Linked DNA regions of Homo sapiens: region 2 is linked to region 1. The links come from fine-mapping of genetic effects on gene expression. A gene starts in region 1. The other region holds a variant in brackets. All regions are shown on one strand. Distances are from middle to middle.

Region 1 (2,912 bases):
CCAGGCTGGAGTGCAGTGGTGTGATCATAGCTCACTGCAGCCTCGAACTCCTGGGCTCAAGCGATTCTCCTACCTCAGCCTCCTGAGTAGCTGGGATTACAGGCACCCACCACCATGCCCGACTAATTGTTTATAATTTTTCTACAGACGGGGTCTTGCTATGTTGCCCAGGTTGGCCTTGGACTCCTGGCCTCCAGTGATCCTCCTTCCTTGGCCTCCCAAAGCAATGGGATTACAGGTGTGTGCCACCGCGCCCGGCCCAAGAGCACCCAATTCAAACTTCCCACCCCCAACTCATCATCATCTCGTTTTCCCACAGCAATTCTCACTATTTAATATTATGTTTTACCTTTTTACTAGCTTCCTGTCTGTCTCCCCATCAACATGACTTGTGCCAAGACAGGGATCTTGGCTGTCAACAGATCTCGCTCAAAAGTCTTGGCTGCTCAAAGTCCCCTGCATCTAGAACGATTCCTGACACATGAACTGAAGAGTTCATCCAAGCAAGGGACCCTAAGGAGGGCTTTTGGAGAGTGTAAAACGTGCGCAAGGCGTGAGGGCAGGACGCCTGAGCAGGTGGACGCTGCAGGTGAAGCAGCCAGGTGGACAGATGAGATGCGGGGATACTGGGCTTCTCCGGAGCCTGGAGACTGGCTTCAAATCTCTGCAAACGGGAGACCGGGCCAGTGCCTGATGGCACACAGAAGGCGCTGGGTGACCGCTGCGACCGCCCGCAGCCCAGACGCGGGGGAGGCCAGCGGTGGGCACCGCCCCGCACCCTTCCTGGCTCACCTCAGCGCGCCGGCTGCAGTCTCCCTGACGGCCAGGCTGGGGTCTAGCAGCAGCGGCCCGAGGCGGCGCACGGCGTCTCGTCGCGCCAGGCCCGGGAGTGCCGGCCGCTGCTGCACCAGCCGGGCCAGCCCTGCGCAGGCGCACTCGCGGACCTCGGCGCTCGGGTGCTGGAGCTGCGGATGAGAGCGAAAAGGGTCAGAAGGCGCGCAATGCGCACGCGCGCGGGGCAACCTCGTCTCGCCTCCCGGCCCGACGGAGCCCTCGCCTCACCTTTTCCAGCAGCTCCGCCGCCGGCCCGTCGTCCTCCTCGCCTCCGGTCCCATTCGCCGCCGCAGCCGCCTCGGCCTGACAGTCGCCCGTAGGGGAGAACTGAGGTCGCTTGAAGCGCTTCGTCCGGCTCTTGCCCATGGTGACGTGCGCTGGGCGGACAGACCACCGAGAGAGGAGGGCAACAGCAGGCGGTGGAGGCTGCCGCGCCGTTAACAAGGTCCGTTGCTGCTGCTCAGCTGGGCCGGCTGACGGCTGCAGCACACATGGGCAAGCCGTGCGCAGGCGCACGGCGCGTCGTCTGCCGGGTCGGGGTTGGGGCGGGGCGGGGTGGGGGGAACTGGCGCACGGAGCGCGCAGGCGTGGAAGAGGGCATAGGCGGGGCCAGCTTCGGCAAAGGGGCGGAGCCTTGTGGGTTTACCGGGTAAGTAGGAGGTTGGACTAGAATAGTAACGCCGACCCGGGCGAGAGGATCACTTGAGGCCAGAAGTTCGAGACCATCTTGGGCAACATAGGAAAACACTCCACTCCCTGTCCTCCCCACCAAAAAAATTAAAAATTATCTGGGCATAGTGGCGTGTGTGTGTAGTCCCAGCTACTTGGGACGTTGAAGCCGGAGGATCACTTGACCCCAGGAGTTTGAGGCTGAGGTGAGCCGTGATCCTGCTACTGCACTCCATCCTGGGCGACAGAGCGAGACCCTGTCTCAATCAATCAATCAAGCAACCAATAAGTTAGTAACACCGGCTACAAATAATCAAATGTGATTAAGAATACCTAACTTGCAAGGTTATTGTAAGTTCTGTAAAGTTCATAAAGTTCTGTAAAGTGCCTAACACCAAGCCTGATATATAGCAGGTACTCAAAAAGCATTAACCACGATTTTATTTTGTGTCCCCAGCACCTCCCATAGCTCCTGTCGTAGACAGAGACTAGTTAATGTTTTGGAACGAATGTGTGTCTATATTTGATAAAACAGAATCGCTTAAGAACCTAATCTCCCTGCCTTAGTTTCCTCATCAGTGAAGTGGGGACATCGATAGTATATACCTCATGGAGTTGTTACGAAGACTAAATGTGTTCATATGTTTAAGGTGCTAAGAACAGAGACTGGCAGATACTAAGCACTATGTAAATGTTTGGAAACGTATTTAACAAAGAGATTCTTTTGCAGATATTTGTTGAGTACTAGGTACAGTGCTGGGCATTGGAATAAAGCAGTAATCAAGACAGTTTGGTTCCTGTCCTCTCTCCCTGTCCTTATGGAATTTACAGTCCAGGGAGAGATCTGTTGAATATATAATTATATGAATAACTTTGGTTATAATTGTGGTAAATACTAAGCAGAGGGAAAAGTACAGGAGAATCTTAGGTGGTCTTTATAATTAGACATGTAACGAGTGAGTACTCAATATATGCATAGCTTTGGGTCAATTTTCTTTTTTTCTTTTTGTTTTTGAAACAGAGTCTCACTCTGCTGTCCAGGCTGGAGTGCAATGGTGCGATCTCGGCTTATTGTAACCTCTGCCTTGGAGTTCAAGCAGTCCTCCTGCCTTAGCCTCCTAAGTAGCTGAGATTACAGGTATGTGCCACCATGCCCAGCTATTTTTTTTTTATTATTATTTTTAGGAGAGACGGGGTTTTACCACGTTGGTCAGGCTGGTCTCGAACTCTTGATCTCAAATGATCTGCCTGCCTCAGCCTCCCAAAGTGCTAGTATTACAGGTATGAGCCACCACGCCCAGGCTCAGGTCAACATTCTACTGGAGAAAATTTCCATTCCATGGTAACCCTACTGTCAAAGAGTTGACTGTCCAGTAAGGGAAATTAATTACTATGGCAAATTTTAGAGA
Region 2 (2,912 bases), 29 kb before region 1:
GCAGTGGCATGATCTTGGCTCACTGCAACTTCCGCCTCCCAGGTTCAAGTGATTCTCCTGCCACAGCCTCCCAAGTAGCTGGGATTATAGGAGTGCGCCACCATGCCCAGCTAACTTTTGTATTTTTAGTAGAGACGGGGTTTCACCATGTTGGCCAGGCTGGTCTTGACTTCCTGACCTCAGGTGATCTGCCCGCCTCAGCCTCCCAAAGTGCTGGGATTACAGGTGTGAGCCACCGTGCCTGGCCATGTTAAAATACATTTTTAAGGCAATCTGGGAAAACTGAACTTAGACTGCAGCTGGGAAAACTGAACTCAGAGTGCAAACCAAAGGATAATAAGAAATATCCGTTAATTTGGAGCCTTGGGGTAATGGTACTGGGGTTAAGATTTTTAAAAATTTATTTTTCTGTCAGACATGCATACTGAACTACATAATAAAATATTGATGGGTCTAATATGATTTGCTTTAAAATACTCCAGGAAACAAAAATAAGGACCCAGTGAGATGAATGAAACCATGTCACAAGAATGACAGGACGCTAATAACCTGCTGAGGCTTGGCGACGGTGCATGCAGGCTCATAGGGTTATCTCTGCTTTGGACATGGTAGCGCACACCTGTAATCCCAGCTACTTGGGAGGCTGAGGTGGGAGGATTGAATCCAGGAGACTAGCCTGGGCAACACAGTAAGACCCCGTCTCAAAAAACAAAGCAACATTATTATCTCTGCTTTTAGGAATGTTTAAAAGTCTCCTTAGTAAAAAGTAGCAAAAGTGGTAAGGCACCTATGGGAGATGAAGTGCACATGGATTGCTGTGAAGGGTCAGGAGGGCATGCTTGCAAAGTCTGTAATGAAATGTTAAAAAAAAAAAAAAAAAAAAAGCTGGGTACGGTGGTTCACGCCTGTCATCCCAGCACTTTAGGAGGCCAAGGTGGGTGGATCACTTGAGGTCAGGCATTTAAGACCAGCCTGGCCACACGGCAAAACCCCGTCTCTACTAAAAATACAAAAATTTTGTGGTGACGCATGCCTGTAATCCCATTTACTTGGGTGGCTGAGGCACGAGAATCACTTGAACCCAGGAGGCAGAGGTTGCAGTGAGCTGAGATCATGCCACTGCACTCCAGCCTGGGCGACAGAGGAAGACTCTGTCTCAAAAAAAAAAAAGATTTAAAAAAAAGACCAATGATAGAGAAATTATTTACAACATATCTATCAATTAAGTTGTATTGATTAAAAAGCACTTGTTTTGCTAGTAAGCCTATATATTAAAAAATTTAAAAAATTAAATTAAAAGCACCTGTGTGTTGCTGATGGTAGGGAGC[A/G]GAAAGATATTACTTTTTATTTTAATCACTTTTGTTTTATTTTTTACAAAGATCACATATTATTCTTGTAACAGAAATATGTATTTTTTAAAATAGTGAAGTAATGAATTTTGCCTCCATAATACACAATCTTTACAAGTTTCATACAAAAAATTTTAAAACTCTTACCTGGGAAATGTTCTTGGAGGCCATTGTTTGCAAAAGGGCCCTCAAAGCACTACTTATGGCTTCTAGAAAGTCAACATGTTTAGCAAAATCTAAAACACAAAAATGAAATATAAAATTTGCATTTCTCCAAGATAGGCTATTTTGTAGAAGCAACAAACAAAACAAAGCATGCTAAATGTTAATAAATGCTATTCTTAATAAAACAAACAAACAAAAAAAAACCCTCGATATTTAAGCCAAAATATTTAGTTAACAGCCCCCTGTACACTCTATACCTAAGTCTGAAAGATGATCGTGGTTAAAATAATCACAGCAAGGAGGTGTTCTACAGACAGTCCTTGACTTCCAGACACTGGGTTTTCATTTGACTCACACTTCAGCACATAATAAACCTAAGCTAGCTTTTGCAGACTGAATTCTGTCATTCATAGATCTCCATCAGGGTGCTGGGTAGAACTACCTTTGGTGGAGTCAGAATGCTTCCTTGCCAACCCAAGCCCACTGCTTAGCCACACACTGTTGCTTGTGCAGAGCCAGGACATGATGGCACCATCACTTTAACTGACCCAGCATCCCCTTCCCACTCCTACTCCTTATTCGCACACTTTTCTTATTGTCCCTTCTTCCCACACGGGACAAACAGAACACCAGCAGTAAGCCATTATGCTGGCACAGGCACGTGCAAGGGACAGTGAGGGTCACCCAGGGGAGTTGGCTCCTTAACCTCTTTGATGGGAAGAGATTTGCTTGGTGTGGTAGACTGTATTTTCTAAAAATGGCCATGGCAATATTTCAAGTCCTGTGTGATCTTCAAGAACCTTGCCACTTCCCATAAAGATGTGAAATCTACTTCTCCTTTCCTTAAATCAGGGTGGGACTTTGTGACTTCTTCAACCAACAGAATACAAAGTGACGGGCTAGGTCACAAAAGGCAGTATGACTTCCAGCCCTGACGCATGTGTGCATGCTCTTTTTTCTCTCGACTTCCGCCCTGGGAACCCAGCCATCCTGTTATGAGGAAGCCTGCGTCACATGAAGAGGTCACTGTGGGTGTTCTTCCTGACAACCCCTGCACCAACTGCCAGACACGTGAGTGAACAAGACTTCGGATGATTCCAGCCCATACTCTGCGAGTCTTCCAGCAGAGGCCCTAGACTAGTATTTCTCAGCCTCTGCACTACTGACATTTTGGACCAGATAATTCTTCATTTTATGTGTGCGCAGGGGTCTCCTGGGCACCGTAGGATGTGAAGGAACATTCCTGGCCTCAACCCTCTAGACACCAGTTGCAATTTCCAAGTTGTAAAACCAAAAATACCTCCAGACGTTGCCAAATGTCCCCAGGTGGGAGGTGGGAGGGGATAAGTGGCCATGGTTGAGAACCACTGGCCTAGACATTGTGGAATAGGAAAAAGC

What was found. PIP is the estimated chance that this variant, and not a neighbour inherited with it, causes the effect.
Region 2: its variant is fine-mapped to the expression of HEATR3 in whole blood (INTERVAL, PIP above 0.99).

What each region holds. Positions count from the first base shown.
Region 1 is chr16:50,064,420-50,067,331 of GRCh38, reverse strand. It overlaps HEATR3 (HEAT repeat containing 3), which reads right to left and starts at 1,362. Exons shown (of 15, transcript NM_182922.4): 1 at 1,063-1,362; 2 at 793-965. The coding sequence starts at 1,200. It overlaps HEATR3-AS1 (HEATR3 antisense RNA 1), which reads left to right and starts at 1,008. Exons shown (of 3, transcript NR_186390.1): 1 at 1,008-1,279; 2 at 2,525-2,641. RefSeq lists silencers at 640-899, 980-1,029, 1,360-1,409 and an enhancer at 1,260-1,554.
Region 2 is chr16:50,093,378-50,096,289 of GRCh38, reverse strand. It overlaps HEATR3 (HEAT repeat containing 3), which reads right to left. Exons shown (of 15, transcript NM_182922.4): 12 at 1,497-1,585. Among named protein-coding and RNA genes, the nearest start is that of HEATR3-AS1, 29 kb to the right of the region's middle. The variant A/G (reference allele first, on the strand shown) is at 1,329.